Linked DNA regions of Homo sapiens. The protein of the gene in region 2 purifies or fractionates together with the protein of the main gene of each other region. This does not show direct contact. Each region holds a gene or a part of one and is shown on either strand. Other genes may lie near its edges. The genes, in order: OPA3, CHCHD4, SLC25A31, RMDN1, ZNF518B, STK39 and MOCS1.

The links.
Region 1: the proteins of CHCHD4 (region 2) and OPA3 purify together in Homo sapiens (co-immunoprecipitation; one large-scale study listed by IntAct). This does not show direct contact.
Region 3: the proteins of CHCHD4 (region 2) and SLC25A31 purify together in Homo sapiens (affinity purification with mass spectrometry; one large-scale study listed by BioGRID and IntAct). This does not show direct contact.
Region 4: the proteins of CHCHD4 (region 2) and RMDN1 purify together in Homo sapiens (co-immunoprecipitation; one large-scale study listed by IntAct). This does not show direct contact.
Region 5: the proteins of CHCHD4 (region 2) and ZNF518B purify together in Homo sapiens (affinity purification with mass spectrometry; one large-scale study listed by BioGRID and IntAct). This does not show direct contact.
Region 6: the proteins of CHCHD4 (region 2) and STK39 purify together in Homo sapiens (affinity purification with mass spectrometry; one large-scale study listed by BioGRID and IntAct). This does not show direct contact.
Region 7: the proteins of CHCHD4 (region 2) and MOCS1 purify together in Homo sapiens (co-immunoprecipitation; 2 studies listed by BioGRID and IntAct, with this or other methods). This does not show direct contact.

The regions. Positions count from the first base shown.
Region 1 is NC_000019.10:45,582,003-45,586,017, reverse strand, and holds the start of OPA3 (optic atrophy 3 protein), read left to right. Parts: upstream 1-1,215; 5' UTR 1,216-1,253; coding exon 1,254-1,395; intron 1,396-4,015. UniProt on the Homo sapiens protein: May play some role in mitochondrial processes.
Region 2 is NC_000003.12:14,114,871-14,118,370, forward strand, and holds part of CHCHD4 (mitochondrial intermembrane space import and assembly protein 40), read right to left. Parts: intron 1,655-3,500; coding exon 1,556-1,654; intron 1-1,555.
Region 3 is NC_000004.12:127,729,013-127,733,199, reverse strand, and holds the start of SLC25A31 (ADP/ATP translocase 4), read right to left. Parts: upstream 2,801-4,187; 5' UTR 2,655-2,800; coding exon 2,423-2,654; intron 1-2,422. UniProt on the Homo sapiens protein: ADP:ATP antiporter that mediates import of ADP into the mitochondrial matrix for ATP synthesis, and export of ATP out to fuel the cell.
Region 4 is NC_000008.11:86,498,687-86,502,186, forward strand, and holds part of RMDN1 (regulator of microtubule dynamics protein 1), read right to left. Parts: intron 1-3,500.
Region 5 is NC_000004.12:10,443,927-10,447,426, forward strand, and holds part of ZNF518B (zinc finger protein 518B), read right to left. Parts: intron 2,614-3,500; 5' UTR 2,403-2,613; coding exon 1-2,402. UniProt on the Homo sapiens protein: Through its association with the EHMT1-EHMT2/G9A and PRC2/EED-EZH2 histone methyltransferase complexes may function in gene silencing, regulating repressive post-translational methylation of histone tails at promoters of target genes.
Region 6 is NC_000002.12:168,237,596-168,241,095, forward strand, and holds part of STK39 (STE20/SPS1-related proline-alanine-rich protein kinase), read right to left. Parts: intron 1-3,500. UniProt on the Homo sapiens protein: Effector serine/threonine-protein kinase component of the WNK-SPAK/OSR1 kinase cascade, which is involved in various processes, such as ion transport, response to hypertonic stress and blood pressure.
Region 7 is NC_000006.12:39,903,670-39,907,066, forward strand, and holds the end of MOCS1 (molybdenum cofactor biosynthesis protein 1), read right to left. Parts: coding exon 2,688-3,397; 3' UTR 501-2,687; downstream 1-500. UniProt on the Homo sapiens protein: Isoform MOCS1A and isoform MOCS1B probably form a complex that catalyzes the conversion of 5'-GTP to cyclic pyranopterin monophosphate (cPMP).

The DNA.
Region 1 (4,015 bases), on a different chromosome or scaffold from region 2:
ACAGGTGCCCGCCACCATGCCCGGCTAAATTTTTTTTTTTTTTTAGTGGAGATGGGATTTCACGATGTTAGCCAGGTTGGTCTCAAACTCCTGACCTCAGGTGATCCACCCTCCTCAGCCTCCCAAAGTGCTGGGATTACAGGCGTGAGCCATGGCGGCCAGTCCTCTGTTCCTGTTTTCTTCTGTCCCTCTGCCTCCGAGAATCTCTCAATTACCCATCAGCACTCCATCATCCAGGAATTTCTCTCAACCCCTTCCTGACATTGTTTATATGATTTTACTCCCTGCTGGGTAAGAAAGGACAGTCTGGGACATGTCCTTAAATTTATTTCTGAACTAGCTCCCTGGGGAACCTACCTCCTAATGAAGGAAGTTGGGTTGCTTGAGAACGGGTATGGTTTTATTGGCCAAGATGCCAGGCTATCAACCTCTGCAGGAACCTTGTGCCACCCCCTGCCCTGCTCTGGGCCTCAGTTTCCTTGTCAGTTACTTGGGAAAGGGTTGGATTCGCTGCTTCTGGGGGTGAAATGCACCCTCAGGCTGGATTTAGCATTAATAATGCAATCATGACCTGTATAGTAAGAAGGGCTATTTACTGAGCGCTTAACTATATGAATGGCACCATTCTAACCACTTCCCATGGTCCACTGTTTTACACTCAAGATTAGCATAGAAGCCTCACAACAACCCAAAGAGGCAACTGCTATTAGGATTCCCATTTGGTAGACGGTAATACTGAAGTCCAGAGAGGTTATGCCACTCATCTAATATTACACAGCGAGGAAATGGCAGAGCTGGGATCCCAGCCAAAGTCTGTATGACCGCGCGGCTTCCTCTTAATCCCAATGAGAGCCCTAGCTTGCAGAGGAAGGTGTATTTGGGGCTCATAGGACTAATTAGGACTAATTAAGAGCCTCCTTTGGGTGGGGACGCCAACTCGGAACGTGACATCACGAAGGAGTACAGTGACGTTGGCCAAGGCGGGCGTGGGAATCCACACGCCTTCCAGCATCCGTTTAACGGCACCGCCCCCTGACCCGCCTCACTTCCGTGTATATTTGCATATTCAGCGAACGGACGTCGCTACGCCAGCGTCGACGGGGTGACGTCAGGATGCGCCTCTGAAGTTTCCCTCGAGCGTACGTACATACGTACTGACGCACGCATGGCCACGAGAGGGCGGGGGAGGAGTGAAGAGGTTGAGGCGCCCCGCCCAGTCAGCAAGGTTGCGCGTGCCCTGTGAGACCGCCAAGATGGTGGTGGGCGCGTTCCCTATGGCGAAGCTGCTATACTTGGGCATCCGGCAGGTCAGCAAGCCGCTTGCCAACCGTATTAAGGAGGCCGCCCGCCGAAGCGAGTTCTTCAAGACCTATATCTGCCTCCCGCCGGCTCAACGTGAGTCTGACCCGAATTCCCTCCAACCTTTTTCCTTTCTCCAACCCCTGTCAGGTGGTTGCTTAGGGGATGGACTTCTGTCTACGACCAATCACAGCCCGAACCGGCAAAGTCCAGTGGCCAATAGTGGGGGGTTTCTGATAGAGGGGCGTACGGGTGGCCCAGTAGTGAGGGCGGGGCGGGGCGTAAGGGGCGGGTCAAGGAGCCACCACGCGAGTAGGAAATGCCAGCCGATAAAGGAAGAGAGCGCTTGGAGACTGATGCCCTGTTAAACCAATAGTGTGAGAGATGGGAGAAATTTGGACGGGGCTTTCCAGGATAGAGGAGCTAGGGGAGGGGCTGAGGAGAAACCGGACGGGGTCCTTTGCCCGGCTGTCCTTGGGCAACTTCATTTCAAAAGCGGCACCGTGTGCCTCAGTTTCCCCACTGATCTAGGAGGTGCTTGTATATCCTCCGTTTAGGACGTCGACGTGCCTCAGTTTTACTGTAGTCAATAAGTCTGGATTAGGGGCATGGTTCGGGGGTGAAGTCTGGGTTCTGGAGACATGGCCTGGGAATCCGGAAAAGGACTTTGAGCCAGAGAGGACATTCATCTGTGTACTCATTAATGCGCTCATACGCCGTCCTTTCATTCGGTTGACAGACTATGCGGCCTTTTTGCTCAGCACTGGGAGATATACTCCTGATCCATCACTGTCAACCCAGAGTGGTCGGGAAAGTGGGAGCCCCGGAGCTCAGAGGAACTGGCTGACCCAGGGACCTGAGGCCAGCAGGGCTGCCTAGAGGGGGCCGCCCGAGCTCAGATCTAAAGGGCATAGTAAGGTCCGGCGCGGTGGCTCACACCTGTAATACCAGCACTTTGGGAGGCCGAGGCGGGCGGATCACATGAGGCCAGGAGTTCGAGACCAGCCTGGCCAACATAGTGAAACCCGGTCTGTACTAAAAATACAAAAATTAGCTGGGTGTGGTGGCGCACACCTGTAATCCCAGCTACTTGGGAGGCTGAGGCAGGGGAATCGCTTGAACCTGGTAGGTGGAGGCTGCAGTGAGCCTAGATTGTGCCATTGCACTCCAGCCTGGGCGACACAGCAAGACTGTCTCAAAAAATAATAAATAGAAATAAAGGGCTTAGTAAACACCCAAAATATAAACTACTTTAAAAAGGTGATCTTGCCGGGCGCGGTGGCTCACGCCTGTAATCCCAGCACTTTGGGAGGCCGAGGTGGGCAGATCACGAGGTCAGAAGATGGAGACCATCCTGGCTAACACGGTGAAACCCCATCTCTACTAAAAATACAAAAAAATTAGCCGGGCGTGGTGGCTGGGCGCCTGTGGTCCCAGCTACTCAGGAGGCTGAGGCAGGAGAATGGCGTGAACCCGGAAGGCGGAGCTTGCAGTGAGCCGAGATCGTAACACTGTACTCCAGCCTGGGTGACGGAGCAAGACTCCGTCTCCAAAAAAAAAAAAGGTGATCTGTGTTGTGCTACGTGGGACATAAAATAAGGGAATTTAGCATCATTGGCTGGGTCAGAGAACCACTGAAACCGCCTTTGCAAAATTATGACTGACACAGCGAAAGAGATCTAAGTTAACTTACTCCATCTTGCTTCTAACCTCCAAGCTATCCTTGTTCATTCCTGGGCAAAGGCTGAACTAACTTTGGGAGAGATTTAGTTTGTAGTTTATAGTTTAAACAAACATGGTAACAGCCCTTTCCCAAAGCAGACCTCCTTCTTGTCTGGCGACTGGATTGCCTTTGTAGGACTAACATTAGCCACAAGATTAGAAATTATGGTTTAGGAGTCATGCAGCTGGAGGGTACAAGATTCTGACCCTCCCTAAACTGCTCCTAAGATCAGTGCTTGAGATATTTCACAGACCCTGCACTTGATGGATCAGCTGGCCTTACCCAGATCAATAAACTGGCCCATCTGATCTTGTGGCCCCCCAACCCAGGAACTGACTGAGCGCAAGAAGACAGCTCCGACTCCCTGTGATTTCATCTCTGACCAATCAGCACTCCTGGCTCACTGGCTTCCCCTCACCCATCAAGTTATCCTTAAAAACTCTGCTCCACCGAGATCGCACCACTACACTCCAGCCTGGGCGACAGACCGAGACTCCGTCTCAAAACAAAAACAAAAAACAAAAAAACTCTGCTCCAGCTGGGCCCATTGGCTCGCATCTGTAATCCTAGCACTTTGGAAGGCTGAGGGGGGTGGAGCACCTGAGGTCAGGAGTTTGCAACCAGCCTGGCCAGCATGGTCAAACCCCGTCTCTACTAAAAATACAAAAGTTAGGCGGGCTTGGTGGCGGGCGCCTATAATCCCAGCTACTCGGGAGGCTGGAGCATGAGAATCGCTTGAACCCGGGGATGGAGGTTGCAGTGAGCCAAGATCGCGTCACTTCATTCCAGCCCAGGCGAAAGAGTGAAAATCCATCTCAAAAAAAAAAAATAAAATAAAATAAAAATAAAATCTCCCTGAATGCTCAGGGAGACTGATTTGAGTAATGGTAAGACTCCTGGCTGGGGCGCGGTGGCTCACGTCTGTAATTCCAGCACTTTGGGAGGCCGAGGTGGGTGGATCATGAGGTCAGGAGTTCGAGACCAGCCTGACCA
Region 2 (3,500 bases):
CTAAGGCCTGAAGTTCCAGTCTCTGGCTGAGTCAGTCTCCGCCCCCGCCCAGGCCCCCAGTTTTCTCATTGGATCAGATGATCTTTAAGGCCCTCTTGATGTTTTGATTCTAGGAAAATTAATTCTGCCACCTTTTTTCTTGGTACTCTTAGCTATTCCAAGCACCATCTCAGCTGCAGAGCTGGATGCTGGAAGGCAGGTAGATGGCATAAAATGGTGGCTTACTTGGTCCACTTACTAATTTTGCAGTTTAAGAGCTTGAAACTTGGGTCCCAGAGTTCTTTGCGTTTTATAGGCTTCTTTTTACAAAGTATTCACTATAAGGGGCTGTAAAGCCAAATGCATCATATGGTATACCTACTATCCAAGCAGATACATTGCAAGTGACAGAAGCAGGTAAAAAAAAACAACAGGGACAGGAAAGAATGGTGGGATCTGGAGGGGGCAGACCAGTCTAAAGGCAGATACGTACTGCTTTTAATAACACTGTGAGGCAAACAAAACAAGGCCCGATTTGTCCTGCAGGCCTCCACAGTCTTGATCAATTAATGAAATGTGCTTAATATGGATCTAAAGATAAGCAAGGTACTAGAATTGACATGTAAGCCCTGATCAAGATTACCCTTGCAGCTGTCTTTCTCAGAATGCTAACACTTTGTATAACGTCTGCATTTCCCACTGCTCCCACTGGGTGCTGGATATGTATTTTATGCTTTAACCCCTAGGAGCAGTCAGGGCAACAAGTGAAGGGTCCTACAAGGAATATACACACATCAGTTAGCATTTGAGAAATTCCAATCAGGAGCCCATATTCTCGAGGCGGCTGCTTCAAGCTCTTCAATTACCAGTTAGCACTAGAAGATTAGTTGTCATCATGGACATCAGAAGTGGTTTTTGATTGGTGAAGTGACTACTGTACAATACGTAGATTGTTCATGGACACTGCACACACACATCCACCTCACACGGTCTGCAGTAGTAAGTATCTAGTGAGTTTAGCAGCCCAAATCCTTTGGAACAATGTCCTAGGCCTAAGCGACCACTGTTATATTCAGCCATTAACCAAGGAGTGAGCAACAGCTCTGACTAGGTTAGCTGACTCCTGCTGCTAGAAAGCTGTCTGTGGCAAGTGACCTTTTCATGTAAGGTGCTTGCTGGAGCAGTTAGAGACAGCAGGGACTTCACCAACCTTACAGAACAAGGTGAATGACTGTCTACTTGCTAATAAAGTTGGTAGATGTGGCAGAATTCAGTCTGGCAACTTGTCTGAGCAAAAGCCCTGTCACCTTAACCTACCTATAACTGCTGGAATCTACTAATACCCTCTCCCAAAACTTAGCTGTTGTGCCAGGGAAGTACATCAGAACAAGGCTGGAAAGCACAGTCCCTCAAACCTCTGAGGAAGATAAACCACTGCCCTCAGAGATGGTCTATGGCTGAGAATAGATACCTGAAAACTTGGCCTTGGCTAGGAAAACATGGGAAAGGAATTAAGAACACTGAGCTTCTCCCCAGTGCCCTGGTGTGGGTCCCTGGGAGGCCACATGTCACTCACCATGCTCCTCGTATGGATCGTTGGGGTCATCAGCCACCAATTCTGCACTGCTTGGAGTTTCATGATCTTCTTTGGTTACAAATATGATTCGATCCTTCCCTAGTGTTTGGAGAACAGAGGAAGAAATATTTCATTCAAGAGCAGTGAATCAGCTTTAAACCCAAAGCAGCCGCCACACAAACCAAGTTTGAAGACTCTCCCATATGCCATCCCTATGTGAGGTGACTATCAAACTGCTCTCATATGCTAGGGGTAGCAAACAAAAGCGGATGGATAAGGGGCAGGGCAGGAAAAGAAGCACTGAAGAAAAAGAGTGTCCTGGGGTTGACCCACAGGGTTCAGAATGCATAAAAGTTGAAGGAAGACTGAGCACATTGGCAAAGTGAGTGTGCAGTGATGTGGGTCCTCAGCCTACAGATCACTGCAGCCCACATAGCTGATGCGGCCACAGGCCCCTGCCTCTGAAAGGCTGAGGACACAGGTGGTCTGAGAGGGACCACAGCCAGCACCCCCACTAGGCCTCTGGGCTCCTAATCGTGGCCGGAAGAAGGAAGGGTCATAAGGTGAGGAACACTGCAGCCGTTCCACTCCCCACAGTCCAAGAGGCCGGGGGACCATTTCCCAACAAGTATAATAACTGGAGGGGGGCAGTGGGAGGAGCACTTCTCAGATCTTTTTAACTGTGACCATCTGCAGTTTATTTTTTTAGGACAAACCCAACAGTGGTTAGGGTCAGGACTGTGGTCCTGTGAGGACCAGCATGGGAAAGCCAGCAGGCCTAAAGTGCAGAGCACCTTGTTCACAACCAGAGCCCTCACCCTGGGGCCTGGCTGCCGGAAGGTCTGAGGGCTCCAGGAAAACAGACCAGTGAGAGTCAAATGCATTTTATATTAGGAGCTTCTCCTCACTGGAGGCTGGGTGAGCACAGAAAAGCACATCAGTCCTGGCCAAACCAGGGTGGGTGCATTCACTGCCTTAGAGTGACCCCCTATGAAGTATTATCACCCTCAGCCCCCATGGAGTACAACAGAAAACCAAGGCTGAGTTAAGCAGAAGGGAGGTCCTTACAGCCCTCTCTGCTACACCTTGTAGCTGTCAACACTTTACCTCACCTCCCTAAAAACTTTGGCCATCAGCTAACCACACCACAGGTATGTGTCAGATATTCCCATTGTGGGCAAGGAGCACCTTGTCCTCAGTACCCCACACTGCACGGTGGGTCATCAGTTTCTCCAGCTGTCCCCAGAGAACAGACAGAGCCAGTCCATCTTTTGGTCCTCCGTGTGAGCTCATTCCTCCATCCTATCGCCACCCTGAGAGGGAGGTAGCAGCATCCCCTTTTAATGGTGGTGAGCCTGAGGCTGTGAGTAGTAACTTGCTGGGCCACACAGGACAGGATGCTCTGAAGTCTACACTGTTGGAGATCCTTTCTACACACCCATACTGCCCCGCACCAACATTTGCACAAGAATAATCGACAGCTGACACTGAGCACTTAGCATGACTGGGCACTGCCTGAGAGCTTGTGCACCTTGGGCAATGAATAAATACAATAAATTCTGACCCAACCTCGGCCCCAAAAAGCTTAGAACCAAGTGAAATGTTTGCCAAGTAAACAAACAAGATCTTTCTTGTACTTTCCTGGTGAAGGTGAATGACAAATTCTACAGACCAACTGACCATGCATTCTGATCCTAGAAGATCTGGGGTACTGGGACCCTCATCTGGAAGGGGATAGGAGGTGCCAAGCATTTAAGAAGACTTCTTCAGGTATGGCCAAAAGTGCCTGGCAGAGAGCCACAGTGCATGGCTCTGAGTGAGTGGCCACTGTGGGCGCAGAGGCCGGACCTGCAGAAACGTGGCCCTGTGAAAGCTGCGGGCATCTCTGATCACTTTATACTTTTTGTTTATATTTAGAAAAGTTCAGTCACAGCTATGCTGAGGG
Region 3 (4,187 bases), on a different chromosome or scaffold from region 2:
TAGTAAACTTCTGAACAGAAGAAAGTACGATCTTTTTTCTACTTCCTTATATGGTAGCTGCATTACTGGAATCAGTGTATACTAAAATCATGCCCCAGACAATGTGTTTATAAGTAAATCAGAGTTAAGTTATTTCTAGGCTTAGAGAAACATAAACAGGTTTCACTGCTACACGAAAATCGAAGGGGAGATCTAAAAGTCATTCAGGTTGCGGGATAAATCTTCATCATGTATGACTGGCCTGCATATAGCAGCAGGACGTTTAACATTCCTGGCCCTTGCCTTTCATACCATTGTAAAGTAGGATTATACCCCTCTATCTTTGTGCTAAATAAAAAAAAATTGCCCCACAAGTTTCCGAAATTGCCTCTAGATGGCAATAGTATCCTTGTAAATTACTGATCTCTTAGCATAGGATACACCATGGTACCTTCATAAAGCTTTATATATAATAGAAAACATCTTCAAGTTCTACTTATGATCCTCTCATCTTGGAACTTAAAGCAAGGACCAGGATACATCTGAGAATGATATCAACTTACAAGGGCCATATTGAATACGTTTAGGTTTAAATATTGTGAAAAACATTTAAAATATGAAATAAATTAGCACTAGTCAGCCCTATCTGACCAGAATACTTCATTTTACCTGACAAAATATTTGAAGCAGAAAAGCTAATAATAGAGAGGCCCCTACTTCTCTTCAGAAGTCTTAGAATATAAACGAAGAAGAGACAGGTTCCTTGCTTTTCCTGAAAAAATCTTGGGGGAAATGAGAAGCTTGCTTTAATTAAATGAATGAGTGGAGAGAGGCAAACTATGAAAGACCTGAGCTTAGCTCCCAGATGATGCATTAAGTTTCTACCCCTGACCCCATATACTCCACGCCACAGGTCTGGAAGAGTTGTAACCACATCCCTAGCATTCCTAGGGTACAAGGTGCTTTTTTAAATGGGACAGTATCTGGCCCTAGAACAGGACTAAAAGAAAGGTCTGCACTGGAGTTGAAGCCACTTCATTTCTTGAGAATACACAATAAATGTCTATTTCTTTTTAAAAGATCATACAGATTTTTCTATTGAATCCAACTATATGGGTGGATTATATAAAATATCTGATAGACTTATCCCTTTAGCTAACTTGGGAGCCATTTTGCAGCAATGGTTCACAAAGCACTTTCGTTATTTCTTTAAATCATTCCAATATTAATAGAAAAAATCAATGATGAACAAAAATGAAATTTTAAATAAGGACAGTGCTTGATGCAAAAAGAAAAACTGGTAATACTGATCCCATCTTTATTTTAAACTTGTATATATTGTGTTTGTTATGAATTCTTTTGCATGACTTGATTTTTAAAAGATTGCATTAAAATAGTTTAAAGTTTTTTTTTTTTCCTGTTTTTAGGAGTGGAGGTTTAATAGAAAAAATAAAGAGAAAGGAGAACAGCTCTCTCTCTAGTTGAAAGAGAGGGGCTTCGGAAACGGAAGGACCCTAAAGTTTTGTTTGTTTTTTTGAGACAGGGTCTCACTCCTTCATCCAGGCTGGAGTGCGGTGGCGCGATCTGGGCTCCCTGAAATCCCCGCATCAGGGTCCCGCAAGTAGCTGGGACTGCAGGCGTGCGCCACCACGCCCGGCTAATTTTTGTATATTTAGCATAGACTGGGTTTCGCCATGTTAGTCAGGCTTGTCTAGAACTCCTGAGCTCGAGCTCAAGTGATCCGCCCGCCTCGGCCTTCCAAAGTGCTAGGATTATAGGCGTGAGCCACCGCGCCTGGCCTTAAAATACTTTTTATCTTGATGACTGAGGGTTGGGTTTTTTTTTTTTAGGGCCCCCTTGAATTTTGGGCAGAACGAAGTACCCCCTTGGTCTTCAGTAGAATAAGCAGAACCTCTTTTCACTAATAGGTTTCAGAGTACTGGTAAGCCCTAGTGCTCCCATATTTGTACTTCTCTTAGACATACTATTTCAACAAATATACATATAGATTTTGACTCAAGGTCTCCTCTGTCGCCCATGCTGGAGCATAGTGGGGTGATTATACCAACAAATATTTAAGCAACTTAGAGCACTAGTTATAGCAGAGTGCCTAATGGCATCTCCCTCAATCCTGGGAGGTCAACCACTCTCCTTCTGGACCTGGCACAGGTGCACCAAGGTGTAAATCGCACTGCAGATTTAGAGAAAGAGAAGGCAGTGGTCTCCCCGGTACCAGGACTTGGTCAGGACCAACGCGGCCCTGGAAAAGCAGAGCCTGTTAGGTTCAGAAACTAAATTCTGGAAGGGTAAGAAGCAAATTCATCACCGACAGCTGTAGCTGTGGTTGTGGGGCCCACAATCATGCCCCTCCCAGCCACCCTCTTCTCTGGGAAGCTGACGAGGGCGCCGGGAGAGGCTGTCGGGGCGGCCTGCCTTGACGCACCCTGCTCGCGAGGAATCCGCACCAGGCAGTCCACCATGCCTTTGTACCGCGCCTCGGGGCTGATCTGCTTCGACGACGCCTGCACCTGCAGCAGCAGCTTCACCCGCTCGATGGGCGCCACCGCTGTCTTGGACACAGCTGCCGCGACTCCGCCGGCCAGAAGGTCCTTCCCGAAGGATGAGGCGTCAAACAGCCGCTTTTCTGCCTTCTTTTTCGCAGGCTCACGATGCATGATGGAGAAGGATATAAAAACCGGCAGCAGTGGCTAAAAATGAGTACGGGAGCTACGATGAAGGGAAGCGGAAAACCGGAAAACCGCTGCAGCATCGTACTGGCGAGAAAGTGGCTCTTGGGACGCTGAGAGAGCCGCGCGCCGGCGAGGCGCGTGCGGAAAAGCTGCGCAGGCGCTCCAACGGCCTCCAGCCACGTGACGCCTGACACGTGACACCTGACACGTGACTCCTGACACGTGGCTCCTGGATGCGCGGTGACGCCTGCGCACTTCTACGAGCGGAGCCTGGGCTTTCTGATGAGGGAGGGGTCCGGAGGCGGTGAGCATTGAGCAGGAAAGGCGAGGGGAGGGGCCGAGGAGAGCCAGTTCTGTGTGAAGAAATTTAGTAGCTGAGACTAGGCCAGAGCAGTAAACCAGCGGTGTGAGATTAACAGAATTTAGTTTTAGTTCCTAGTGTTACCCCCTTCACTTTCTTAATCGCTTTAATCCGTTACGTTTTTTTTGACCAGAGATGGTTCCTTTGACCTTTCTTGGCATCTTAAAAAAGACAGTCTTACCTGTTGTGTGATTCAAGTGATGTTCCCCTTAAATTTCACCCTATGTGCCTGTTAATGCTTCAAATTCCCTTGGAAATTGCTTTAATCTGTTCCTTTAATTAAGCAGGGATCCTTTGTCTAGTCACTTTCTGTGTCGTTTTGATGATTGTGCCCCCATAGCATAATACATGTTCCTCTTTTTCATATTGTATTTAAATTGATAATATCCAGAGCAGTGGTTCTCAATCCAGACTGCACATTCAAGGGGATGAGGGGTGTTTTGTTTTGTTTTTCAAATTGATGCTTGGGATTAGGCCCTGCACATTAAATCAGAACGTCTAGAAGTGAGGCCTGGCATCAGTATTTAAATTCTCCAGGTAATTCTAGTGTTTGAAGTAATTCTAATTCTAGGGTTGAGGGCCAATGACCTATCTAGAAGAGTAGTTCACAAACTTTTCGATTGCAGGACCCCTCTTTTTCACTCTGAAAAATTATTGAAGGCCAGGTACCAGTAATCCCAAAACTTTGGGCCAAGTCCAGCCTGGGCAACATAGTGAGACCCCTCCTTTACAAAAAAAAAAATAGCTGGGCGTGGCTGCACAAGCCTGTAGTCCTAAGTATAGCTACTTAGGAGGCTAAGACAGGAGAAATGCTTGAGCCCTGGAGTTGTAGGCTGCAGTGAGTTATTATCTCACCACTGTGCTCCAGCCTGGGCAACAGAGCAGGACCCTGTCTCTTAAAAAAAATTATTGAAGACACAATGAAGCTTCCGTTTTTATTATGTATATTGGCATTTACCACTCAGAAATTAAAACACGATTTAAAAATATTTAATTCATTTAAAATAAAAATAATCCATTACAGGATAGCATAAGTACGACTTTTAAATAAAAAATGTAGTAGAAAAATAGTATTGTTTTATATTTTTGAATCTCTAATGTCTGATTTAATAAAAGACAGCTAGATTCACATTACTGCTTTTGCATTCAGTCTGTTG
Region 4 (3,500 bases), on a different chromosome or scaffold from region 2:
GGGAGGATCACTTGAGCCTGGGAGGCGGAGGTTGCAGTGAGCCAAGATTGCACTACTGCACTCCAGCATGGGTGACAGAGTGAGACCCTGTCTTAAGAAAAAGAAAAAAGAATATAAACATAAAAATCCTCAAAAAAGTATTTGCAAACTGAATCCAGCAGCACATTGAAAAGATAATACACCACAAAAGTAGGCTTTATTCTTGAGATGCAAGGTTGGTTCAACATGCAGATCAATAAATGGGATTCATCACAGAAACAGAACTAAAAACAAAACAAAAACCACATGATCATCTCAAAAGACACAGAAAAGGCTTTTGATAAAATTCAACATCGCTTTACCTTAAAAAACATCAACAAACTAAGCACTGAAGGAACGCACCTCAAAATAATAAGAGCTATCTATGACAAACCCACAGCCAACAACTGAATGTGCAAAAGCTGGAAGCATTCTCCTTGAAAAATGGAACAAGACAAGGATGCCCACTCTTACCACTCCTTTTAAATATAGTACTGGAAGTCCTAGCCAAAGCAATCAGTCAAGAGAAAGAAAGGAAAGGCATCCAAATAGAAAGAAAGGAACTCAAACCATCTCTCCTTACAGATGATATGATTCTTTACCTAGAAAACCCCATAAACAGTCTGCTCAAAGGCTCCTGGAACTAATAAACAGCTTCAGTAAACTTGCAGGTTACAAAATCAATGTATGAAAATCAGTACATTTCTATACACCAATAACACCCAAGCTGAGAGCCAAATAAAAAACGCAACCCCATTCATAAGAGCCACAAAAATAATAAAATACTTAGGAATACAGTTAGATGTTTTACCACAATGAAAAGGAAATCAGAGATGACAGAAACAAATGGAAAAACATTCCATGCTCATGGACAGGAAGAATCAATATTGATAAAATGGTCTTACTGCCCAAAGCAATTTACAGATTCTTATTTGTTATTCCTGTCAAACTACCAATATCATCTTTCACAGAGTTACAAAAAACTACTCTAAAATTTGTATGGAACCAAAAAAGAGCCCAAATAGCCAAGGCGATCCTAAGCAAAAATAACAAAGCTGTAGGCATCACACTACCTGACTTCAAACTATACTACGAGACAGTAACCCAAACGGCATTATACTGGTACAAAAACTGACACATAGGCCATGGAACAGGTTAGAGAACTCAGAAATAAAGCTGCACATCTACAACTATCTGACCTTCAAAAAAGCTGACCATAACAAGCAATGGAGAAAAGAATCCCTATTCAATAAATGGTGCTGGGATAACTGCCTAGCCATATGCAGAAGATAGAAACTAGACCCCTTTCACCATATACAAAATCAACTCAAAATGGATTAAAGACTTAAATATAAGACCTACAACTATAAAAACCTAGAAGAAAACCTAGGAAACACCATTCTGGACATAGGCCCTGGCAAAGATTTCATGGCAAAGTCTCCAAAAGTAATTCTAACAAAAACAAAAATAGGTAAATGGGACCTAACTAAAGAGCTTCTATATAGCAAAAGAAACTATCGACAGGTTTCTTAAACAGACAACCTACTGAATGAAAGAAAACATTTGCAAACTATGCATCTGACAAAGGTCTAATATCCAGAATCTATAGGGAACTTAAAACAATTGAACAAGCAAAAAACAATCCCACTAAAAAATGGGCAAAAGACATGAACACTTCTCAAAAAAAGACATACAAGCAGCAGCCAATAAACATGAAAAAATGTTTCACATCACTATCACCACAGAAATGCAAATCAAAACCAGAATGAGATACCATCTCATACCACTTAGAATGGCTATTCTTAAAATTTCAAAAAAAAATAATTAAAAAAAAAAAAGATGCTGGTGAGGTTGTGGAGAAAAGGGAATACTTATACACTGCTGGTGGGAATATAAATTAGTTCAGCCACCGTAGAAAGCAGTTTGGAGATTTCTTTAAAAAAACTTAAAATAGAACCACTACTTGATCCACCAATCCCACTACTGAGAATATACCCAAAGAAAAACAAATTGTTCTACCAAAGTGACACACACGTCCTTAAGTTCATCACTGCACTGTTCACATTAGCAAACACATGCAATCAACTGAGATGCCCATCAATGGTGAACTGGATAAAGAAAATGTGATACATACACACCATGGAATACTATAAAGCCATTTTTAAAAAAACCCAAATCACATCCATTGCTGCAACATGGATGCAGCTGCAGGCCATTATCCCAAGCAAATTAATATGGGAACAGAAAACCAAATACTGCATGTTTTCACTTGTTAACTGGGCACTAAACACTGAGTACACATGGACACAAAGACAAGAACAATAGACGCTGGGGCCTACTAGAATGGGGAGGGCAGGAGGTAGGCGAGTGTCAAAAAGCTACCTACTGGGTACAATGCTCACTACCTGGGTGACAAAATCACTTGTACACCGAATTCCAGCAACACATAATTTACCCACGTGACAAACCTGCACGTGTACCCTCTGAATCTAAAATAAAAGTTGGAAAAAAAATAAACAAGAAAAAAATGGACTATGATAAAGCCAAAAGTAATTCTGGTTTTCCCTTTCAAAGTACTGAATTTTGTTACTTCAGAAAGCACTACATCTTTACAATCATTTCTATAATGCTACCAAAATACACTGAAACTAAATGTGATAGATTCAAAGAAGAAATAGAGATAAGGAGCTGGGTGTCGTGGCTAATGCCTGTAATCTCAGCACTTTGGGAGGCTGAGGCAGGTGGATTGCTTGAGCCTAGGAGTTCAAGACCAGCCCAGACAACATGGTGAAACCTCGTCTCTACAAAAAATACAAAAATTAGGCAGGCATGGTGGTGTGCATCTGTAGTCTCAGCTACTTGTGAGGCTGAGGTGGGAGAATCACCCGGGCCCGGGGAGGTAGAGGCTACAGCGAGTTGTGATCATGCCACTGTGGCCTAAGCATCAGAGTGAGACCCTGTCTCAAAAAAAAAATAAGTTCTAATCTCCACTCTAACATTTTGACTTTCAAGTTTAACTCTGTGAACTTCTTTTCAAAAATTATTATAATGTGATAAGATAATAAGACTTGTCCTAACTATTTTATAAGGCTGCTGTGAGAATTAAAGTCTAGGTTGCTTTAAAAAGATGAATTATTTTAAGTATTTGCCAAAATAAATCATTCAGCCAGTAACAAAACCAAGTTCTCTGCTTTGTCCTTCTTCATAAATACATTTAAAAAAAAAAAAAAAGAACAGTGCAGGGCTTCTCAATTATCTGCTTTTTTAACGGAAAGATAATCACAGATAAATGAAATCAATAGATAACTAGCAATCTTTAGATCATGTTCTCAAATTCTTCTATCAGAAGTTGAATAAGACCATCTATTCAAAATCAAATCTCTGCTTCTTTCCCCAATCACCCTCTCCTTTATAATTAAAAAGTGAGGATTGTAAAAAACAAAAAAGCTTCACTCATTAATTTCTTCATATGATATTGCTCT
Region 5 (3,500 bases), on a different chromosome or scaffold from region 2:
GGTATGCTGACAGGTGCTTCACATGTAGCCTCTATGATGTGGGCATTCTCAGAGGAATTAAGAACCCTCAACACAGCCCCTTTGGGGATTAACACTGGCGTGGCAACATGAGCCTTCCTGGCCACTCTGCTTTTGGTTTTCCTATTACTGCCATCTGCAAAGTGTGGATATATTTGTTGATGAGTAAGCTGTCTATTACCAGTAATACCACCATCATTCGGAGGTTTCTGAAGAGTACCTGTGGAATGGCCAAGACCAGTGAGTGACACGTTGATTTCTTGAATACCTTCAGAGGTAGCTTTTGAAGTTCCCTTTGATGCCTGCCCTACAGAGCGACGATGTGCACTATTTGAAGCCAAAGATGACGGCTTCCCACAGGACTCAATTAACTGAGCTATCTTTCTGCGCAACAGTTCAATTGACTTTATTTTAGACGTTGAGCTATTCCACTTAATGCCCTCGGGGACATTTTCAGATCCAGAGCTCAGAGAAAATACTGATGAGATGACTGGGCCATCATTAGTGTTGTTAGTCCTTTCAGAATTCTTTAATTCCAAAGGCTTATCCCCAGGCTGTTGAGATCTATCTTCTCCAGTTATGTTTATATGTAAATACTCACTCTTATGTTGAGAGGAAATCTGGCCTACAGTTGAAACTGCCTTGTGTTCCTCTGTCTGGTTATCTTCCTGCTTCCTATTAGAGGAAACCACTTTTACAGGAATATTGACTTTACTTGTAGATTCCAAGTCATTTTCACTTACAGGCAATAAGCCCTTTTCTCCAGAGAAGGAACAGGTTGCAGGTGATGCAGCAAATGGGAGTAACTGCTGTGAGCTACTGTGTAAATTTCTTCCACTTTCAGCAAAACAAACAGCAGCTTTATATGGAAAAGGGTTTGATGCAGCTCCAAGACTACGTAAAACACTGTTTTTAAATACAGATGCTAGAGAATGACCTTTTAAGGCAACGGAAGGAAAAGCAGTTCTATGTGGATACAAATTATTTTTTTTCTGAAAATCCTCAATTGTTTCCGAATTAATGAAGGATTTTCCATTGTTGTGCACACTAGAATTTGGCATAATAAAATCATAAGACCTTACCCATTTCACATTTTTAAGCTGTTTCTGAACTGAAGGTTGAAAACTATCAATGCCTACGAGTTTTCCAACATTCCCGTCAACTGTCAGTGACTTTGTTTTTTCTGCAGAAAGTACTTTTTCTTGTTCATTTGAACCCTTCTCTTTCACCATACGTTCAGAATTACCTCCATTATCCCTCCCAGCTTCAAGGCAATTATTTTCTTCCAGCGGAAACAGTTTCAGAACAAGCTGCTGTGTACCATTGACAACCTTCACATCTATCAACTGGGCTAAACAGTTTGCAGGGACAACTAGTTCTGCTGGTGCAACAACTGTCAATGGCATACCTGGCTGAACAGGTTCTTTTGCAGGGGATAACACTTCTACTTCAACATTTTTGTTCTCAAATAGGTTGACTTCATTTGGCTCAGACAGGGTCATTTTATTTGGAATACAAACTACATCTTTTTGGTATTCCTTTGGTTCAGGTAACAACATGATATTGTGCATTTTGTCTTTATTTGCATGGAGAGAGAAACCTGACAGTTGGTCTGACCACTTATTTTGAAATGTAGTCCGTGGATTGGAAGCTTTTAGAAGCTCTGGGTTTTGTTTTGAAGTTCCGGTTCTTTTTGGCTCCAGCTTGGCAACAGCTTTGACTGGCCGTTTCGCACCTGCCCTTTCATGTACTCTCTTCGTGTGTTTGACAATATAATCATTTCTAATAGCACCATAGTCACAATACTCACACTGATAAGGAAATATGCCTGTGTGTTTCACCAAATGCCTCTGAAACTCTCCTTTCGTATACGAAATGTAGCTGCAGTGAGAACAAATGAATTTAATCTCCTCGTGTTGAAGGGTGTGCTTTTTGTACTGCAGCGGGTCCTTTGTAGAGAATCGACATTTATCACAATAGTATTTGCCTGGCTTAAAGTTCCTTACCTTAAATTTGCTATTGACAGAACTTGAGAAGTTTTCAGTTTTATTTCCAACATGAGTCGCACTGGAATTATTGCTCACAAAATGAAAATTGGGAGGAGCTGCACCGAGGCTGCACTGGAAGCAGACATACATACCGTCCTTCCCTGTACCCTTCTGCAAATCTTGAAGAGAGATCTTGTGAACACTTTTGCACTTTGCACATGTAGCAATGGTCATCATGGCAGCCTCTGCCTCTGAGCCTTGATACAAAAGGGTTTGTGCTTCTTGTCTATTTGGCCGAGGTGCTCCATTAGCATCAGGCTGTTTGGGTGACATGGTCAAGGAATTATGTCCGCCGTTCAAGTGTGTAGTGTATAGCTGCTGTCCAATATCCTTCATCTTATCTGCATTTCTAAAAAGAGCCAACTAAAATTCAGAAAGTTTTCACATGATAAAATCCTTAGGAGATATCCTTCTATACAGTTTGTGATGGGTAGGGGCGCAGCTACTTCTTGGGTGCATACTTAATTATCTTTCTTTATATACTGCCGCAGTAGGTGCATGATCCCAAAATATGACTGCTTTCAGCTCTCTGACATTCCAGGTAACACTAAAGGAAAACAAAATTATAAAGCATGATTAATATAAGAGTTTGGCTAAGCTATTAACAAACTTATCCTATATTTTAATGGCCTTGGACATTTTATGGTAAATCTCAACGTATGATTTTAGACGCATGTTATAACAATAACACAACAGAGTTGGCAAGTAAGCCTAAATTGAAAACATTTTCAAACTCAGCCCCCTATAAATGACCACTTTAGCCAAATCATGAATGAACACAGATATACCAGGAACAAGGACATCATAGCAGCCATTCAGGACAGCCTTTGGTCAGGGAAAGTCATTTTCAAGTGTCAGTGAGCACATCTTTCATAGGTATAATTTCATATTACCTTCACAAAAATGTTATACAGGACACTGTCAGTTCAATTTTTGAACAAGTTAGTTATCAAGTGGTAGAGCTAGGGCTTTGGCCTGGGGTGTTCACATTTGTTTCTACATTATAGCTTATTATCAGCTTGAATACCAACTCTCTCACTTACATGCTTAATTTGCCTTCATGAGTGCTAAGAAGCCCATAATACTGACAATGTTAGCAAGCCTGCTGCAGCATCTTATTGGGAATCTACTATGTGCTGGGCATTATTCAAAAGTGCTGTAAGGTAGTGAATGAAAGCAAATCAGTCCCTCTCCTGGTGATGCACACACTGCACAGGGGGAAACAGATTACATATTTGCCAATGGTGGTAAGATACTTGGGAAAAAAGCAAGGCCAACAGGACAGGGAAGACCACGGTGATGAGGTTGCGGGGCTGGGTGTGGAGGTGAGGAGAGTCAGGAGAGGCCTCATGCTAAGTTCATGTCTGAGCAGAGACCTGGGGGCAACCACAGTGAGCATTGTGGCTGCTGGAAAAGGGGTGTTTCAAGCACAGA
Region 6 (3,500 bases), on a different chromosome or scaffold from region 2:
CTTATTATTTTGAGATACGTCCCATCAATACCTAATTTATTGAGAGTTTTTAGCATGAAGGGTTGGAGCCTGGGATTCTAAGGACTTTGGGACCATAGGCAAGTTTCTTCAACTTTGGCCATTAGAGAGTTTTCAGTTACAAGACAAAGCAGCTGGGATGGATTTTTTTTCCTTTGGTCTCTTCTAAAATTAAATTTCCTAATTCTCTCTATATTCTTGTACCACTTCTCACTTAGGAACTCACTTATAAAAACCAGCCATGACCTGCCATTCCTTCCCCAGGAAACCCCGTCTGCTGCTCCTCTTCCTTTGCTTTCTTGAGTCACCCCATAATTAAACAAACAGAGATAGTGACATTGCCTGAGAGAAAGAAAGAGAACCAGATGATTCAAATTAAAATCTAAGCTACACAGGATAGGTCAATAGGCACCAACCTACCCAAAATGTAATCCTTTTTCAATCCCCAGACTAAACAGAGTAGGAAATAAAGCAGTTGGAATACCCTTAGTACAAACTCTGGTTCAAACTGATGCAACCAGTTCAAAACAAAATCATTACTTCTTCTAAGACCCCAACCATCCACAGAATGATTATGAGAAGTCTCACAACTGTCACAGGTCACTGGCTCCAAAATACTCCCTGAATGAAGATCTATCATTCACAGGGCAGAAAGTCATCCACCTCTACTTTCCATCTAGTTTTTTCTGACAAATAGCTCCAGTGGTAACTAAAAGTTAGAAACCTAAACCCATAAATGTCAATAAAATGTATATTTTTTACCTAAGGGAAGAATCACATGAGCACCCCCAATACTAGGCTTCTGAGAGTTATACTAAATGCCACTTACCTGGAAGAAGTTTGAAAATAAAGTCAGGGATAATATGAATGTAGAGGTCTCTACCATTTCTATCTTAAAATGTTTTCCCATATATCAAAATACACAATCAGTTTAAAAGGTCAATTAATCTCAATCCTCAATGTCCAAGAAGTTTCTTAAAGCTAAGCCAGAGTTTATTCTCAAATAACTGTTTGGCAAGTGAGAAGAAATGTGAAACATATCATTTACTCACATCGGATTCCAAAGTATTTATCTAAATCGACTCTAGAAATAAAGTATGCCAATCCATTCTCTAAAGGATTTTTCTCTTCTGCTTTTCAGTTAAGCCAAGTCTGAAATGACTTTTTAATTAATATATTGAATTCTTGTCTAGTATCAAAAACTTGGCCAATTGATGGCAGATAGGGAAAAAAGAAACACTTGAATCACTTCAACTAAGAGCTGTTTTGGTATAATCTAAACACAACTATCCTAGAGGAAAACGTATGACTTCACATGATTACATGGAGAATTTTATTTAAATAGGAAAAAAAAACTTTCCCAAAAAGTACACTGTAAAGGAATTATAACATCTATTAGAATGACCCGGTTCTATGGTCTTAGCAGGTACCACAGCCATCCTATCATGTCAGTCCCTTATAAGTTATAAAAATAGAACTCCTGCCATCCTAACAACCTTTGAAAGCCACTTGTTCTGCAATTCTGCTCCTGTGTTTCACCTGCATCCCTGATCGTCTCCAGCAGCCCTGATTCCTACACAGGAAGAGGCTCCACAGAACTTCAAGGTGAGTGTTATATATAAATACATGAACAGCAAGAGAGAGAGATCACTGATATACAAAAGAAAAGAAAGCTCTAGAGCTTTTGAAGGGCAGTGTGGGACTTCCCCACTCCACCCTACAATGTCTACGGATGCCAGAACTGTGGCAGGGAGCTCTGGGTCCTTTAATCCAGCCAGAAAGGCCACCTCTCAGTCCTAAGACCTCAGGAGAGCCAGGCCTCTGCCTGCCTACCTCCACAACACAGGCAGGTGGACGCACTCAAAGTGCTTACTCTTGATCTGTGAGGATTAATGAGCTAATTTCTACAGAGCCCTTTAAGCTGATTGGCCCAAACGCAACTAAATAAACCCCATCATTAACCACGGGCAAGATCAAATCCTCAGGATCCAGTGAGGCAAATTTTTAGACGTCAGGCAATGTTCCTCCTCCACAAGGTGAGGAAGGAGTATTTATCCCCAAAACTCAGAACTTCATCCAGAAAACATTTATTAAATATCTATTATGACATGCAGGGTAGGGAGATGAGAGACCCTGTCCTCAAGGAAGACTTAACAGTCTAGAGCCAGGCTGGCAAGGAAAATACAATTTGCAGATAGTGTGACAACTGCCAGGGAGCGAAAGACCCAACAGAGCCTGAAGGGCAAGGGGGGAGGGGGGCTCTAGAGGCAGAGATTGTTTGTGTGACAAGAAATCACTTGTTCAGGGTATGAGAAGAGAGGCCCAGTCAGGGTGCTGGTTACATGGTGTGTTCAATTCATGAACATGCACCAAGATATACATTTTTTATATGTACACTTTTCCACATGCATATTATACTTCAATAAGGGCAATATTTAAAAGAAAAGACAGAGCTCTTTGCTACATAGATGAAAAATGGAAGGGAAGGGTCTTGGAATGGTGTTCCAAGCAGAGGGAAATCTTGCCTAGAAGAGGCATTTCAGCAACTGCAAAAGGTTCCCACTGGCTGGAGAGTCTGTCCTGAGACTGGAAATTACAAGATGTGGCTGAAAAGGGAGGCAAGAGACAATTCCCAAAAGACCTTAAACACTGTGCTTCAAATTAAGTCTTGAGGGTGACGGGAGAGCTACTAAAGGCATTTCAGCCTGGGAGCAACGTGATCAAGAATTTTGGTATAGCAGTATCTTTCTGGTAGCAATGCACACTACAGCCAGAAACAAGAATGGAAAAAAGGAACCTGGTTAGGAAATTATTACAATAATCCAAATAAGAATCGATAAGGGCCTGAACTAAACCAGTGGTGGCTGACATGAAGAGTCAGAGTCAAATCAAAGAAGATCTCAAGGAGGTGGAGTATTTAGGACTTGGTGACCAAACAGATGTGAGAGATGGACAAAGACAGGAAAGTATAGGATGGCCAGCAGGTTTTGCCCTTGAGGGCTCTAAAGATGATGAATATAGAAGAAACAAGATTAGGACTGAGGCCAGGGTGGAGAGACAATGAGTTTAACTGTATGAAGTTCCTGTGAAACATTCAAACGAAGACATTAAAAAGGTAGTCCAAACACTGGTATACAGTCAGGAAGACCCTCAGCATTTGATGTGGTAATTGAAGCTTCAGACAGACAGAGATGTGGATCTGGGGCAGGCAAGGGAGTACAGGAAGTCCAGAAGGAAGGCATGGCATGGAAGCTCAAGCAAATGCCTTTCCAAAAGGAGAATGAAAGATGGCACCTAACCCTGCAGAGAGCAGAGAAAAGGACTGCAGTGTCCACTGGCTCTGGCCACAGAAGAGTCACAGTGATTTCAGAGAGTAACTTGGGTTTCTTAGGGAAAGGGCAGAAGCCAGACTGCAGTGGGCTGAGAGGGAATGGGAGGTTCCTTCCAACAATTTAGCAGTGAAAGGAAGAAACGAGATAACC
Region 7 (3,397 bases), on a different chromosome or scaffold from region 2:
GAGCTGGGCCTACTCTCAGCTGCCTATCTTCTGCCTTTCACTTGCATCCAACTCCTGGGGCTGGGACCGTAGTAGCTGCGGGGGGGAAGAAACACAGGGTCGGTGAGCCCAGCATGTGCGTTGGTTTGAGGGGGCGGGCGGTGTGTGTGTGTTCTGGTGGGAGGGATCTGAGCAAGTGCAAGCCTGGCTGACACAGGTGTGAAGAGGCCATCCTGGAACCCAGGTGAGGGCAAGATGAAGGCTTCCAGGCAGAACAGCTGCAGAGAGTTTGGCTATATGCATCTGCAGCCCCAAGAGCTCCCACTGCAAGACAAGTGTTGGGGAAGATGGGAGGTTGTGGGTGAGGCCTCTAAAGGTCCTCTCCCAAACTGACCAGGCTGATGTCAACCTAACCCCCTCAGGGGCAGGGAACAGGGGAGGGCTCCACAAGCGTGTCTGGCATTCCCACCCACCATGGAAGACTGGATACGCACCTGGAAACAAAAGGACTATGGAAGCTGTTCAAGATACATTTGATCTTCAGAAAAGCAGAATTTGGTTCAACTGTTGACAGAGGACACAAATACGTTGTTCCAGAGCTCAGCCTTCTCACTCTAAAAGAAAGATATTTTTCTATTTATTTTCTACATCTGGCCAGTGGCTCTGGTGCTAGATGCCACTGTAGCCAGATCTCCAACAGTGCCTTGGACCATGGACTCATACTCAACTGAGTAAGAAGGGGCTGGTGCCCAGTCGGGGTGGCTGAGCTGGTCCTTAATAGGTTGTTTCTTGGTCTTGCTTTCTTCATGCCCTCCCCACTGCTCCTGCCACCTTTAGATAAGTTTCTCTAGCTAATTTTGTGGCCAATGTAAAATTCGTCATCAACCTAACAAACACAACCTTCTCAGCAGCATTTCTCCCCTGTGATGGAAATAAAGTGTTTAGGGCAGTGGGAGGAGAAAATTCTCCAGGTGAATGGGGAAGGGTCTGTTCCAGCCTCTCCCTACTCCCATCCCATTTCCACCAACTGGGGAACTGTGACTATCTATCTCCCCCGACTTCTACCAGGGATGCCTTCACGCCAAGGCTGTTCTCACCAGCTGCCTCAGATGACAAATGAGGCTAATGGACATAATCTACAGTGTCCTTTTTCACTTGCACCTTTTTTATAAGAATATATTGTAATACTAAAAAATATTAAATTCATACCATCCCTACCCAGTCTGCCTTTAAACTTGTGCCTTCTTCCTATGAGGGGATCTGGGGTGGGCTGAGAGTGTGCTGGAGCCAGCTTGTACCAGCTCTGTGAGAACCAATTGTTTACATTTTCAGAAATTTTGCAAGCCATTTGACATACTGGTAGCTTGAAATTATTCAACATGGGAGTATTTATATCACAAATTGTCTTTTCCAGAGAGCTGGTTGTTTAATATTTGCCAGCACACCTTGGCATAGGGCAGAGGGGAGGCAGGCAGGGGGCACCACTGAGGACTCAAAGACATCCAAGTTAGAGAGCCCAGCAGGCCAGAACTGTGTGTGTTTGGGATGTGAGAACCAGGAGCCTCTAATTAATTGCCCTCTCTGATCTCTCTAATAGCTGGTAATGCAAGCAATGAGCTTTGAACACCCCTGGCCACCACCTGACAAAAGATTTCCCTTAGATGGTGCATTTCTATGCCCCCTACTCCACTTTATTTTCCCATAGCGGGGCTATACAGAGAGTACACCCTTAGGCCTTTCCAGGTCCCTCCTCTTCTTCCCTCAGGGAACTGTGTCTTGGGATAGGATTGATTGATTGATTGATAGGTGCAGCCTTCCCTGTGAAACTGCAGCAGCTCAGTGCCCTACCCACACAGTGTCTTCATTCTTGCATCTGCAAAGTTGGCATCGTAGCTTTATTTGTGCGCTGTGAGGGTGAAGGCAATCTATCATCAACTTTTCTTTCCCTGATATGCTCCAGAATAAAGAGGGGTGGGTGGAACAGCCGTGAACAGGGCCAGGTGTGGGCTGTGTGGTCTGGCAGGAGTCCTTAGGGCTATGGCCCATGTGTGCACATCCTGTTTCAGAAGAGGGGGGCCAGAGGAAAAGGGGCCAGCAGGACCGGGCAACTGTTAAGCTGAAAGGCTGCAAGTCTGATGGGACACAGACTTGGGCAGAAGGAGAGATGAAGTCAGGACAGGACAGGACAGGGCAGGGCTGCGGCTTCACAGACTTAGGGAGGCAGAGCTGCCGGGGAGAAGTTGGGATCCATTCTTCAGGCAAGCTTGTGCTTTGCTCTCCTCAAAGTGGGCTCCTCTGCTTAATGAGCGCTTAATCTCTCCCCAGGAAAGCAGGAGAAGAGAAAACCCAAAATGAGAAGGAAAAGTTCTGGGCTGGACTGTCGGAACCTGGTTGTCTGAAATAGTCCACAAAGAACATGATTTCTCAGTTATCTGGCATTGCTTGTTGCAGTCCCGCTCCCACGACCTTAGTGTCCTGGAAGGCTTAAGGGCCTGCTGGTATCCTCCCTATAGAAAGGAAGCCCCATTGGTCATTAGAGATCATCTAGCAGCAGGCCTGTTTGTTAGTAGTAGAGCAGGCTGACTTCGGGTTTACTGCTCAAGGTAAACAAACAGTGACTGTGATTAAAGGAACCTGACGTCTTTCCCTCAGCCTACATTGCATCCCAGCTCCAGGCCTGGGTGGGCCATGGGTGAGAAGGGCAGGTGCTAAGCCCGATGGAAGTCCCCCCGCTGACCACCAGTCTTGCTAATGAGCTTGATCTCCTCCAACACGATGTCCCTGCTGACAGCCTTGCACATGTCATACAGGGTGAGGGCGGCCACTGCAGCAGAGGTCAGGGCCTCCATCTCCACCCCGGTGGGGCCCCGAGCCCGGCAAGATGCCTGGATCTTCACGGCATGGCGTGTGCTGTCCAGCTCCAGCTGCACCTGGATGTGGCTCAGGGCCACGTGGTGGCACAGAGGGATCAGCTGGCTGGTCACCTTGGCTGCCTGGACTCCAGCCAGCTGGGCCACCACTAGGGCATCTCCTTTCTTGAGCTGGTTCTGCTGGACAAGCTTGAAGGCTACCGGTCCCAGGAGGACCACGGCTGAAGCCACAGCCACCCGCTCTGTGTCTGGCTTCCTGCCCACATCTACCATAGCTGCCCGTCCTTCCGAGTCCACATGAGTTAGTTGTTCTGAGGTTAGCTGGGGTCCTGAGGGGGCAGCAGAAGCCCAGGAACCTGGGCTAAGGCACTTTGAGTTGGCATCTGAGTCTGCACGGGAAGTGTAGTGTCTCTGAAAGGAGCCAGACCCCAGCCGCTGCTGGGCTAGAGGAGGGGTCTGGGGGACCCTGCATCCTTTCCATAAAGTGGCCACCTGGCTGGAGAAACTCATTCTGGGTCTTAGACCCTGAACATGGAGCGGGTCCCAGG